Linked DNA regions of Homo sapiens. The protein of the gene in region 2 purifies or fractionates together with the protein of the main gene of each other region. This does not show direct contact. Each region holds a gene or a part of one and is shown on either strand. Other genes may lie near its edges.

Region 1 (7,029 bases), on a different chromosome or scaffold from region 2:
TACTCATTTGTAAAATGGGGAGGATGACAGTGACTGCCACCTAGGGCTATGGTGAGCCTCCATTGATAGAATATGTGTAAATCCCTTGAAGATTGGCATGCAGTAAGTGCTAGCTATTAGTGTCATCATCATAATCCAAAATGCAGAAAAGCCCATTCTGGCCTAAGAAGGAAATAAAAGTCACCTGTACAAGAATTCTTTACATCTGACTGATGTTGTGCTCTACATTTTGACATACTCAGTGTGGGAAAAATGTCCTTTTAACCAAGATTTGATGCGATGACTTCCTTCACCTTTTCACAATGTATGCTAATTTACTAATTGGCACCTATAGTCTCAATTCTTCTCATGGCTACTATGGAGTTTTGGAGACATATTCCTGCCTCTTTCCAGAACAGACAACAGCAAGATTTTCTCAAAGGGAGCTCTGGCTTGACCAAAACAGTGCTGTCAAACTGAGATTGGCTGTTTACATCTTTGAGGATGGATCACGACTCCTGTACACTTAGGATACAAATGCTTTGTATTTACACAGAGAGCTCAAAAGCAATTTATGTCCAATATTCTCAGGAGTCTTCAGAGCATAAGCTGCAAAGCAATTAACTGGTAGTGTGGCTCCTCCACAGCTGAAAACCAGGAGCATTAAACAACTTCTGTGCTCACAGCAACAAAGAGCATGTCAAGTGCTGAGACTGGGACAGATCTGAGCTTCCTGATTTCTTCACCTCCATTCTGGGCAGAACTGATGGGTCTATTCATTCATCTGCTTCACTTCCGGTAGAAAGGGTTACATTTGGGTTACTGCAGGATTGATTTCAGTGCAAACTGTGTTTATGTTTATTACTGTATGGGTGCTTCTGAGAACTTAACTGTTTACAAAGATTTTCCCTAGGAAAATCAAAATCAAAACAATCATGAACTTGCATAAACAGTCTAAGTTCCAGGCCCCAACTTTTGGCAGTAACTTTGTCAAGCATAGTCATAATTTTTATAGACAGAAGATAGAAGCAATGTTTAAAATAACTTTGGTTTCAGTGATTGATTTTAATTGTGTCTGCCACCTTTTCTCTTCCAGTAATAAGTGGGCACCAAAACATTTACCTTTGACCCCTCAGACAACCAGAGGGCAGTGGGAAGGTGACCCTGCCCTCACTGCAGCCCAGCTCCATCTCAGAAAAGCAAAACGCTGCTCTGATTTAAAAAAAAAATCCAGACAGAGGAGACACATGGTCCTACTGGGGAAAAGATATCCGGAGGGAGTGCACTGACCATGAGATTAGACAGTCCAAGGCTCCTTAATTTAGGCTGTATAGTCAGCTATCAGATCAAGGTTCAACACAGCTAGAAGCAGAAGAATTTCTGCTACCCTCTACATAATCAGAGAGTGCAACATGGGCTTAATCTACAAATCAAGTACAGACACTAAGGAGAATAAAATAAAGTAGAAAGGAAAGACACTTAACCACAACATGAAGGCAATTCTGAGATGAAGATCTCCTAGAACATTAAAAACACTGTTGGGGAGAAGGAGGTGCTAGATCAGTGGAAGAGAATAGGTAAACACTATAGTTCCACCTGGAAACATGAAGCAGGAATCCACCTCACAAGTGAAAGAGAATTCCGAAATGTATCAGCACTGATGGAAAGTGATGTTCAATGATCACATTTCACATACTGTTCCTAAGATCTGAACTTTTCAAATGAGAGAAAGTCTCAGGTTGGTTTTGAACACATTACATTCAACATAACCATTAGCCATACCAAAAAGCAGACAAGGGTGAGCCTTCGTTTGGGAGGGAGCCACTCGAATCAGTCCACAAAGGAGACACCCTTACACAGTGTACCCTCTGTGAGAAGTGATATCATTCTTTGCTGCTTGTTATTTATTCCTTCTAAGATCTTTGACTTAGAAGATGCATTCCTAATTTGCAGAAGGAGACAGACAGGAAAGAGGGCAAGGGATCCTACTAATGCAACACAGAGCTCACAAATGCATCCTTCCCTCGAGGCCAGAGTGGCAACAGACCATAGAGCCACCCTTCAACTGAAGCAAGATGCCCTTCAACTGAAGCAAGATGCATGGAGACTGTTTCCACTTAGGAGTCAGATAAAAGGCCAGAGGAACCCACATGGCTGTGCATAAAGGCTCCAGTTGATAAATGGATAAGCAACAGTGGAAACACAGGTCAGACTGTTTAGAAGAGTGCCTTCCTAGTCATTAAGCGTGGTTAAGTTACCCAAACACATCTCTGTAGCCCTTTTGATTTACTCAGGGTTTTCTTCAAAACAAAACAAAACACACCCCCCAAAACCAGGGCTAAGGATAAAATTTTCCATCACTCATCCTGGTTAAAAGCAGCTTTTAGGGTCACACTCAAGCTACAGGGTGGGTTTTGTTATTGATGTTCTTGGTTTTCCAAATACTTGAAACCCTACGAGTACATGGAAAAAGCGAAAAACATGTATTTTTATATTAATGCTGATCAACATTCTCATTCCTCCAACCGCAGCCAGTTCATTTGAAGGCTTAATTATGCTTTTCTAAAGCTTCTCACAACTCTTACCTCCACCTCACCAACATATCCTATTCAGTTTCCTTTAAGAAAATGCTATTTGGGGTGAAAAAATCTGGATGTATTTACTGTTATGTCATTATTAACCATCCAACAGATGGGAAACCTAAACATTTTTCTTTCCATTGGAAAGGTAATTCATACTGTATGAGATTTGGAGTTTTCTTAAAATCATCCCTTTCTTGTCCTAAAAGAATGTCTTAGAAATTACAAACAATCATCAATGCTTTAAAATCATCATACAGGTTTTCCTTCTAGAATATAAAAAGTAACATAAGTTTACTAAAGTAAATGATGCACTTGTAATTATTTATTCAACCTCTGCTCTTATAAACTCCATGAGGGAAAGTTTATGTGGTCTTCCTGTTAAGAAACATTCTCAGTGCCTATCACACATATGAATAAATATGTACTGAATGACTGAGGAAGAGTACACAGAAAATGTAGAAAATCGCCTGTAATCCTATCATCCAGAGTTTATACAACATACACACAGAGTCTTCCAGATATACAATCGTGTGTACTCCATTTTTAATATTTTATTGAGCATTTTTCTATATCTTTAAATATACATTTCAAAAATATGGTTATAGAATATTCCTTTGTATGAACATATCCTTCCTTTAAACTCACAAATACCTTTTGACCACCTGTATATATCAGGCATTATGCTAGTACTAAGGATGGAGCAGTAAGGAGCACATGGTTGGAGATTGATTTTCATACACCAGTATTTTTTTTTAAAAAGAGGGAAAATAAATAAAAAGCTGCTGCAAGCAGATTTTTGGGCAAAACATTTCTGCATATATTTCTAGGATATATTCTTAAAAAATGGAATTACTGGAGCCAAGTGTATGAACTTTAAGGCACTTGATTTATATTACCAAACTGCTTTCTTGAGAAGGCTGCAGCAATCTATAATCTCACCAGGAAAACATGACAGTACCTATCTTCTGGCTGAACATTATCAACTGACAGTAACGAAAAACAATTAGGGGAGAAATGACAACTCATTCAAACTTAGAGATCTTGGATTACAAGCCAAGTTCTTTTTTTTTTTTTTTTCTTTTTTTGAGACAGAGTCTCACTCTGTCACCCAGGCTGGAGTGCAGTGGTGTGATCTCGGCTCACTGCAACCTCCACCTCCTGGGTTCAAGCGATTCTTGTGCCTCAGCCTCCCGAGTAGCTGGGATTACAGGTGCCTGCCACCATGCCTGGCTAATTTTTTTTTATTTTTAGTAGAGATAGGGTTTCACCATGTTGGCCAGGCTGGTCTTGAACTCCTGGGCTCAAGTGATCCACCTGCCTTGGCCTCCCAAAGTGCTGGGATTACAGGTGTGAGCCACCACACCCAGCCCAAGTTCAACTTTTTTTTTTTCATTCTGTTTGCTGTTTGTGTTTCTTCTGCTGTGAACACTCTCTGTTCATGTCCTTTGTCCATTGTTCTATGGGGGTGTTAACACTGTTTTCTTATTGATCTACAACCACAGATATTAAGGCATTTGTTTGTCATACTTTTTGCAAATGCTTTTCTCATTTGCTATTTGCCTTTTAACTGTACTTATGGTATTTAACATGGAATAGCTCAAAAATTTTAGAGTCAACTCTACTGACCTTTCTTTGGCTCGTCTTCATGATTTTTATGCTTAGAAAGTCTTTTCCCATCCTGAGGAAAGTTAAATATACAACTGTATTTCCTTTTAGTTTTTTTTTTAAGAGTTTACATTTTTTAGATTTAACTCTTTAATCTACATGGAGTTTGTTTTTTGGTGGTGGTTGGGTTATTCTTTTTTTTCCATGCTTCTTTTTATAACAGTTTCCAGGTACTTAAACCAAAGCATCCTGCCAGACTTCTTCCACAAGATCTACGATGGCATGTGCTCAGGTGCCAGGCACATCAGGCACTCTATATCCGTTATTGCTAATCCTCACTACAACCTTGTAAGGGAGGCAAGGAAGGTGATATTATCCATTTTATCATAAGCAAAGGGAGCTGGAGGGAAAATATTTCTCTAAGGCAAAAGCTAGCAGGAGGGCAGGCTAGCATTTGAATGTAGATTGGCCCGGCTCTAAAGCCCTATTCTTTCCACTATACTCTGCTCTCCAAGGTAAGCTCTATTCCTTCTGAAATCCTAATATTTCCTGTCCTGATTATATGGCACCCTGACTATACTGTAGGGGTCACAAACACCAGCAAGTAGCATAAGTGAGAGGTGTGGGCTGGGTGCAGCACAGGGAGGAGAGGGACCCATGCAGAACCAGGGGCCTGCAGAAAGGTGGTGGCTGCTCTGCCAATGAGCCATTTCAGATCACTGTTCCCCCAGTGCTGCCCCCTCTTCTGGGTTTTCCAGGGAAGCTGACAAGTGGGATTTTTATGTGAAATTTCCTGAGTTATAAATTTTCGCAATTAATTCAGTGTCTTTAAAAACACTGGGCAATTTAAACAAGTCTGAGGGCCAGATTCAGCTCCAGGGTTGCCCAGCTATGCTGCTGATAGGTCCATGACATGACTGCCTTCTTTGATTCCCTTGTCAGTCACCTTAGCAGACTTGTAAGCGTCTAAGACCGTTGTCATCTGATGTGCTTCTTGCATCCCCTTTGCCATTCCATGCAGTAGTGCCTGAGAGATGCTCAGGACACAAGTGCTACTTCATCTTCAAATATCATCTTCCTTTACTGAATTAAATCTAGAGGTAGAAACTGTGGGGAAATATCAAATACACGTACAATTGCTTTTAGTTAGCAACTGATTGTAGCATAGGCTCCTCCAAGGTTTCAAGCAATGGACAGAGTTTTAAATTATAGTGGATTTGTTTAATTTATTATTTGATAGTAATCTGAATAAATCTTAGAGGCCATTATCACTTAAATAATAGTATATCTAGGTCTTTCAAATTAAAATTATACCTGAATAATGGAGGGTGGAGGACGGGACGGGGGTGAGGACGGAAAAACTACCTATCGGGTACTATGCTTATTAGCCGGGTGATGAAATAATCTGTATACCAAACCCCCGTGACAGACAAGTTACCTATATAACAAACCTGCAAATATACCTAACCTAAAACAAAAATTAAAAAAAAATTAGACCTGAATGAAGCTGTCTGTACACATGAAGTATATTTGTGTACCATGACCAAGTTTGTCGCCTGTACTTGTTTTTTTTTTTTTTTTAACAACTGGAAATTATTTACTGTATCTCATTTATGTCTGTCTATCATAAAGAATTGATCAATATGTAAATATGTGATTTGAACCATGGTTGACTTTTTGAACCATGGTTGACTTATGAGTGTTGCTACAACATTTTAGAAAACATAGCCTGTTCCATGTATTAACCAAGGCCCAGGAGAGCCAGTAGGCTTGTGCTTTGTGTAGAGCTGGGAGAGGCCATCCATCCTGTCTCTCAGTGGACAATGTACTTTCCTGATAAGGAAGGGAAGCACAATGGAAATACACCTCAACTGTTTTATTGCAGTAATTTTTTTTGTATCTGAAACTGTATTGTTTAATATATTAAGATTTTAAAAAATAAATGCCATGATTTTAAAAAATTATCACATTCTTCATCTCACCCCTAACTCAATCAGAAAAAGTCATTCAAAGCAAAATATGCTTCCAAATTACTGATCTCAGATAACAGTGAGGCAGTTGGTTTTCCACATCATCTCTGATTCCTTAGATGAGCAAAATAGAAAAACCTCCATCTCTGTACTAAGAAGACACTTATAAAAACAAAACACAAATGAGCAGAAAGGACAAGGTAGAAGCCTGCTACCTGTTTCTTGTTTTACAGGTTCACAGGAAGCACCTGGCACACAGTAACTATTATTAATTTCTGCACTGGAGGCATCAGGAAAGCCTTCACGCTATAGGGGGCCCTTTTAAGTTAAGAAGTTGGAGAGCAAGCCTCGGGGAAAGCAAAGAGATAACTTAGTAGAATGGAGCAACCATACGGGAACAGTGAGAGTCCATGGATCTCCCTGGGCTAAGATCATGTATGGATTTGGCAATCTGGGTAAGGAGTTTCTATTTTATCCTTTGTTCCAACAGAAGCAAATTAAGATTTTTCAGGTGGAAAACAAAGTGATGAAAGCAGTGAGCTCAACCTTTGAGGCTCTATGCTCCCTTCTTGTTTTTTGTTTGTTTGTTTGTTTTGAGAAGGAGTCTCACTCTGTGGCCCAGGCTGGAGTGCAGTGGTGCGATCTCGACTCACTGCAACCTCTGCCTCCCAGGTTCAAGCGATTCTTCTGCCTCAGCCTCCTAAGTAGCTGGCATTACAGGCGCGCACCACCACGCCTGCCTATTTTTTTTGTATTTTTAGTAGAGACGGGGTTTCACCATGTTGGTCAGGCTGGTCTCGAACTCCCGACCTTGTGATCCGCCCACCTCAGCCTCCCAAAGTGCTGGGATTACAGGCATGAGCCACGGCGCCTGGCCGCTCCCTTTTTTATTC
Region 2 (7,345 bases):
ATCCAGAGAGACAGGACATAGATGAGTGGTTGCCAGGCGCTGAGGGGACTGGGTAATGGAGTGTAAATCAGAAGTAAAATGCTAAGCCCCCTCAGCCAACTGAGTGGACCCTTCCTCAGCTAAGGGCATTCCCAAGTTAACCTGAAAAACTAGTTCAGACCATGATGGGGAGTGGGGGTCAGAGGTCAGACGTGTCTCCCACCTTCCTCCTTTTGGAATTCAGATACAGCTGACCAGCATTAACATTAAAACAAATCTTTTTTTTTTTTTTTGAGGCGGAGTCTCGCTCTATCACCCAGGCTGGAGTGCTCACTGCAACCTCCGCCTCCCAGGTTCAAGCAATTCTCCTGCCTCAGCCTCCCAAGTAGCTGGGATTACAGGCATGTGCCACCATGCCTGAGTAATTTTTGTATTTTTAGTAGAGACAGGGATTCTTTCATGTTGTCCAGTCTGGTCTTGAACTCCTGACCTCAGATGATCCACCTGCCTCGGCCTCCCAAAGTGTTGGGATTACAGGCGTGAGCCACCGCACCTGACTAAAACAGATCTTAAGGCTGATGAAACAGACTTTTTGTAGCAATAAGACACCAAATTCCAAACTAACTCTAGTATAGCATCAGGACAGATAGCAGGTCCTGAATGAAATTAAAGTATTTTACCCCCAAATGTATTTCTTTGACTTATTTTGAAATGGCCCTGCAAAGCTGTCTCTTGTGAGGAAACATCTGCATTCTGTAGAGAATCCCCTTCCCTTTCCAGGCCTTTTCCTGATCCAGGAGAGAATTAACTAAGACTCTGGCATCTTTTTAGGTCTGCGAAGAGCTCTGAAGCCTGCCACCTGGCGGCCTCTGCGTGATGAGACCTTGGTCTCCACAACAGCTCATCTTTTTTTTTTGAGACGGAGTCTCCCTCGGTCGCCCAGGCTGGAGTGCAGTGGCGCAATCTCGGCTCACTGCAAGCTCCGCCTCCCGGGTTCATGCCATTCTCCTGCCTCAGCCTCCCGAGTAGCTGGGACTACAGGCGCCCACCACCACACCCACCTAATTTTTGTATTTTTAGTAGAGACGGGGTTTCACCGTTTTAGCCAGGATGGTCTCGATCTCCTGACCTCGTGATCCGCCTATCTCAGCCTCCCATAGTGCTGGGATTACAGGCATGAGCCACTGCGCCCAGCTAACCGCTCATCTTAACCCGACATTCCTTTCTACTGATTCCAGGTCTTTAGATAAACTCTTTTGACCAACTGCCAATCAGAAAATTTTTGGAATCTACCTATGATCTGGAAACTGCCTTCCCTACTCCCACCTCAAGTTGTCCCGCCTTTCCAGACGGAACCAATGTACATCCTACATGTATTGATTTATGTCTTAAGTCTCCCTAAAATGTATAAAACCAAGCTGTACTCTGACCACGTTGGGCACATAGGATCTCCTGGGGCTGTGTCACGAGCCATTTGTTACTCATACTTGGCTATAAATCTCTTTTATAGCCAAATATATAAATAGTATAGTATAGTATAGTATAAATCTCTTCAAATATTTTACAGAGTTTGACTGTTTTCATTGACAGGGGAGTGATTGCTCACAGGTATGGGATTTCTTTTGGGGTGGTGAAAATATTCTGGAATTGGATAGTGGTGATGGCTGTATAACTTTATGAAAATACTAAAAAAACCACTGAATCATACACTTCTCAAACTCCTGAGCTTAGGTGATCCACCCGCCTCGGCCTCCCAAAGTGCTGGGATTCCAGGCGTGAGCCGCTGCACCCAGCCTGAATCATACACTTCTAAAAGGTACATTTTATAATATGTGAATTATATCTCTATTTTATTTTATTTTTTGTTTCGAGACAGGGTCTCACTCTGTTGCCCAGGCTGGAGTGCAGTTGTGCTATCTCAGCTGACTGCAACCTTCACCTCTCAGGCTCAAGCAATCCTTCCACCTCAGCCTCCCGAGTAGCTGGAACTACAGACATGTGTCACCATGACTGGCTAATGTTTGTATTTTTTGTAGAGATGGGGTTTTGCCATGTTGCCCAGGCTGGTCTGGAACTTCTGGACTCTAGCAATCCACCTGCCTCTGCCTCTCCCACTGCTGGGATTACAGGCGTGAGCCACTGTGCCTGGTCACATATCTCAATTGTAAGCATTGAGAGTGGTTCTCTTCTTGAGGGTGGGCCAGCCAGTGGCTTTGCTCCCTAGTTCTAGCCTGAAGCCTCTGTTCTCTCCCTTGCCCCATCTTCTCTCTAAGGCATGAGCCACCAGTTCTGGTCACACTCACCTCATGGAGCCCATCAGCCCGGTTTCCTAGGCCTTAGGCTGGACCCCTACTCAACCCCAAAGGCCTGGTGTGTGTCTTGCCTTGTGATTCCTCCCGAAGACGTCTCTGTCTTGTTTTCCCTCTAGAATGTCTTTATAGATGTCCTCAGCTGGCCGGGCGTGGTGGCTCATGCCTGTAATCCCAGCACTTTGGGAGGCTGAGGCGGGAGGATCACCTGAGGTCAGGAGTTCGAGACCTGCCTGACTAACATGGAAAAACCCCGTCTCTACTAAAAATACAAAAGTAGCTGGGCATGGTGGTGCATGCCTGTAATCGGGAGCTTGAGGCAGGAGAAGCACTTGAACCTGGGAGGCGGAGGTTGCAGTGAGCCGAGATCTCGCCATTGCACTCCAGCCTGGGCAACAAGAGCGAAACTCCATCTAAAAAAAAAGAAAAAAAAAAAAAGATTTCCTCAGCTAAACTTCTTCTCTCCTTTCCTCCCACATTGTGTAGAGAAGGCCAGCCATTGTAATCCATACAGAAATTTTGGCCCTGAGGACATTTTAAATACAAACATTTTAAACTGAATTATACCAACTCTGCTGAATTTCCATCAAGGACACTTTCCAGAGCCCACTCTATGGAGCTTAAATAAATCCTTGATCAATTTTCCAGAGAACACTGTGAAACTGCACAGTTCTCCATTTTCATTTTTACTTGTTATCATATTTGATTCTTTCCTGCTGACATTTTCTAACAGCGTTTCAGCATAGGCCTCCCGATACCTATCAAGGCCTGTGTCCTTGGATTATAATTTGGTGATTCTATCACCAAGCCATGAATCTCCCACCGAAGTTCAGGGAATAGCACATTTTTTCCTTGTGCAGCTTTTGCCCTTCTCAGTTTTATTTTCTCACATCGTCCTAATATTAACGTTCACTGTGGTTGAATGAAAGACTGATAGATTACATTTATTTCTCAAAGAAGCTAAGTTTTAAATAGATAACGCATGCATGTGGTAGAAAAATGAGAGCAGTACAAAAGGGTGCACAAAGGCAAACCTTGCCCCTCTTGCTGGCCTCTTGCCCACTTGCCCTCTGCAAAGGCTGTGTCTCAGACGGGGTGCCCAGGACGCCGGCTCTGACACGGAGACCCACGGCAGGCAAGAGCCTCTGGGGGAAAGGGAGGAGCAGCAGAGAAAGAGGCGGCTGTAATGCAGTCTCAGGGAAGGCCCAGCCGCCCGGAGGGAGCTCCGGAGCCGCACTGTTCCTGGTCAGGAGTTCAGGAAGAGGGTCTTCAGGCTCTGAGTGGACCAATCATCAAGCAGCCCTTCTTGGGTATGACCTGGGGCAGATTCTTCATCTGGGAACAACTGGCCCATCCTCCCCAGGCCAGGGCCCTGCAGCCAACACTCCCCAGAGCTGCGGGATGCATCCTCCTAAAGGGACCTAGGCAGCTTAGCCCGAAAATCACTGTCACCCACTGTCCCCAAGTTACCTCTGTCCCCTCCCTACCCTTTTTAGCTGAAGACTTATTTTTAATTGTTATTTTCTTAGACCTCTGGAGCACCCCACGCCCCCAGCCTGGGTTAGCTGTCAGGAGCCCCTGTCTCTTCCTTTCCCACTGCAGCGCCGCCCCCTCGCTGCCTCAGGGGGAGCCCACGCAGCAGCGGGGGCAGACGGGCCTCAGCCTCAGGCAGCCTGGGGAGCAGAGCCTTAGAAGCCATGCTTTTTCTTTTTCCTTTTCTTTGAAACAACTTTCTAGGGCTCTGGAGTTATAAAAAGCTCCCATGTGTCACTTTCTGGCATTTGGGCAGCTGCCGAATGCCACCCGGCCTGCACTGCTGTCCTCCCGAGGTTTGCCCCTGGATTGATGGGCTGGGTTTGGCAAAAGCAGCTGGAGGTTATCGAAAATCTGTTGTAAGGAGCATTGTTAACTTAGAATAAAAATCGAATCCAAAACACGCTTTTGCAATACCCCCTCCCGATATCCACCGAGGCAAAGGCAGAATTAAGAAGCAGGGTCTTGAGATGTAGGAAAGGAGAATGAACCCCACGCGGGAAGAGGACAGGCCGCCCTGACTTTGGTCCACTCAGCCAGGGGGTGAGCACCACCTGTCTTGGTGAATGACTCTGAGCCCATCTCAGGTGTGGCTGCAGGTGACACATCTTCTCTTCCTGTCCACCCCCCAGCCCCATGGCGTCCCTTCCTGTCCTGCAGAAGGAGAGCGTGTTCCAGTCGGGAGCCCATGCCTACAGAATCCCTGCCCTGCTCTACCTGCCTGGGCAGCAGTCCCTGCTGGCCTTCGCGGAACAGCGGGCAAGCAAGAAGGATGAGCACGCAGAGCTGATTGTCCTGCGCAGAGGAGACTACGACGCACCCACCCACCAGGTTCAGGTGAGGCAGGAGGTGTCTGCACTGGCTCCCCAGGGCTCTGCCACACCCTTTGCTGCTGTGATCAGGGGCCAGTCCTGGATCTCAAGAAATACAGGGACAACTTTATCCCTCAATGGCTGTACTCCGGAGGAGAGATAGAGCAGAGAAAGTGCCCCTAATGGTTCCCTGGACCTCTGGGTTCACTGTGAATTAGTCCAGCTGGCCTCCATCTGTTTTCATGAAAGATTGAATGAGTTGCCCAGCATCCGTGATGACCTCACGGAGGAATAGTTCAGTGTTGCATAATGGAGGGTTGTGTCCTTTGAGTAAAATTAACTTGGGGACTTGGGGTGGGGTGATGGCTTGTGTCCTAAAGTCCCATTTTATAGATTAAATAATTAATCCTGATGACAGCACCCAAGGCTGGCTGATCATATTTGAAGAGTTTAATATTATTATCATTCCTTTGTGGTCATTACTACACAGCTGTTCAAAGCATGGGATTTGAAGCAGATGGACCTGGGTTCAAGTCCTGGTTCCGCCACTGACCACAGATGTGGCCTAGGCAACTCCTCCTCCCTGTCGCGGTCTCTTGCTCACTGTAATAATGGAGCTACTAACACCTGTTCCCTGGGGATTGAGGCATTAGATGAGACCATGGATGTTAGACTTTTGGTGCTGTGTCTGTGCTTAGAATTGCCCAATGGGGGTAGCTGTTAATAAATGGGGACAGACAGCACATGTGACATAGACTTGGGGATTCTGGAAGCTCAATGTGACTCCTCCTTGGCTACATGAGTAGGATATGGAGTGTAGAAGGTGAGAGGTGACCGTCACATTCTGTCTTGTACTGGTCAGGTTATTGCACCTTCCGCCAGGGCTTTGCTATTCAAGGATGGTGAGCTGGACTGGGGTGGGAAGTGGAGGAACCAGGATGAAGTTGGGAATGGCTCATGCACGAGTCATCTTCATATCTTGTGGTCTGGCAGGTGGGTGTTCTGTAAATGCATATTGATGGCAATGGAAGGAACAGAATCACTCAGCCGAGTGTGGCTGCCTTGGAGGGGTGAGGTGGCACCCTGGGCCCCGCAGCTCTGGGGAAACGTTGCAAGGAGGATATGAGTGTTGGGTGAAGAGTTCTTCTCGATGACTTTTGACTCTAACCCGGGAGACACACCCGTGCCCACCCCTCCCACTCATGCAGCTCCTGGCACCATCCCCAGCTGTTTCAAGGCTGCCTTCTTCTTTCTCTCTCCCTACTCAGTGGCAAGCTCAGGAGGTGGTGGCCCAGGCCCGGCTGGATGGCCACCGGTCCATGAACCCATGCCCCTTGTATGACGCGCAGACGGGGACCCTCTTCCTCTTCTTCATTGCCATCCCTGGGCAAGTCACGGAGCAACAGCAGCTGCAGACCAGGGCCAATGTGACGCGGCTGTGCCAAGTCACCAGCACTGACCACGGGAGGACCTGGAGCTCCCCCAGAGACCTCACTGATGCGGCCATCGGCCCAGCCTACCGGGAGTGGTCCACCTTTGCAGTGGGCCCGGGGCATTGTTTGCAGCTTCACGACAGGGCCCGGAGCCTGGTGGTGCCCGCCTACGCCTACCGGAAACTTCACCCCATCCAAAGGCCGATCCCCTCTGCCTTCTGCTTCCTCAGCCATGACCATGGGCGCACGTGGGCGCGAGGGCACTTTGTGGCCCAGGACACCCTGGAGTGCCAGGTGGCCGAAGTCGAGACTGGGGAGCAGAGGGTGGTGACCCTCAACGCGAGAAGCCACCTCCGAGCCAGGGTCCAGGCCCAGAGCACCAATGACGGGCTTGATTTCCAGGAGTCTCAGCTGGTGAAGAAGCTGGTGGAGCCGCCGCCCCAGGGCTGCCAGGGGAGCGTCATCAGCTTCCCCAGCCCCCGCTCGGGGCCTGGCTCCCCAGCCCAGTGGCTGCTCTACACTCACCCCACACACTCCTGGCAGAGGGCCGACCTGGGTGCCTACCTCAACCCGCGACCTCCAGCCCCTGAGGCCTGGTCAGAGCCGGTACTGCTGGCCAAGGGCAGCTGTGCCTACTCAGACCTCCAGAGCATGGGCACCGGCCCTGATGGGTCCCCCTTGTTTGGGTGTCTGTACGAAGCCAATGATTACGAGGAGATTGTCTTTCTCATGTTCACCCTGAAGCAAGCCTTCCCAGCTGAGTACCTGCCTCAGTGAGCCTGTGGTGCCCACCTCAAGGGCCTGCCTTTCACCTGCACACCCAGCTCGGAGGCTCTGCGGCTGCCTCTCCTTCCCGTGGCCCCTGGACGTGGGGGCCACTCTGGGCTCCCTTCGGCGCCCGTGTGTGGAGAGAGGTGCACCTCTTGCTCTTTTCCTCCTGCGTGGTTCCAGTCTTCCCAAAAGGTTCTATTTTCAGCCCAGAAACCAAAAGTGTCTGGCTTCCCATAGCCCCTCCATAGGGAAGGCGTGGAGGGTCCTGCAGCGCAGCTGTCACCTTGTCTGCCTGTCCCCTACCCCCAGCTTTGTGTAGGTCTTGACAAATTTCTAGTTCAACTCCTTCCTTCTTGGGAACCATTCCTTATGTTCCTGGGGAAGAACTGAGATGGAAGACCATGGTGTAAATTAGCAGAGATGTGTGTGTATCTGTGTGTGTCTGCATGTGCACGTGTGTTCGTGTGTGTCTATATGTGTCTCTGTGTGCATGTGTGTTCGTGTGTGT

Evidence for each region. Proteins that work in one complex are often made in the same cells at the same time.
Region 1: the proteins of NEU2 (region 2) and ALKBH3 purify together in Homo sapiens (affinity purification with mass spectrometry; 3 studies listed by BioGRID and IntAct, with this or other methods). This does not show direct contact.

What each region holds. Positions count from the first base shown.
Region 1 is NC_000011.10:43,911,825-43,918,853, reverse strand, and holds part of ALKBH3 (alpha-ketoglutarate-dependent dioxygenase alkB homolog 3), read right to left. Parts: intron 6,592-7,029; exon of another isoform or gene 6,370-6,591; intron 2,186-6,369; exon of another isoform or gene 1,933-2,185; intron 1-1,932. UniProt on the Homo sapiens protein: Dioxygenase that mediates demethylation of DNA and RNA containing 1-methyladenosine (m1A). Repairs alkylated DNA containing 1-methyladenosine (m1A) and 3-methylcytosine (m3C) by oxidative demethylation. Has a strong preference for single-stranded DNA.
Region 2 is NC_000002.12:233,028,215-233,035,559, forward strand, and holds NEU2 (sialidase-2), read left to right. Parts: upstream 1-4,457; coding exon 4,458-4,658; intron 4,659-5,901; coding exon 5,902-6,843; downstream 6,844-7,345. UniProt on the Homo sapiens protein: Exo-alpha-sialidase that catalyzes the hydrolytic cleavage of the terminal sialic acid (N-acetylneuraminic acid, Neu5Ac) of a glycan moiety in the catabolism of glycolipids, glycoproteins and oligosacharides.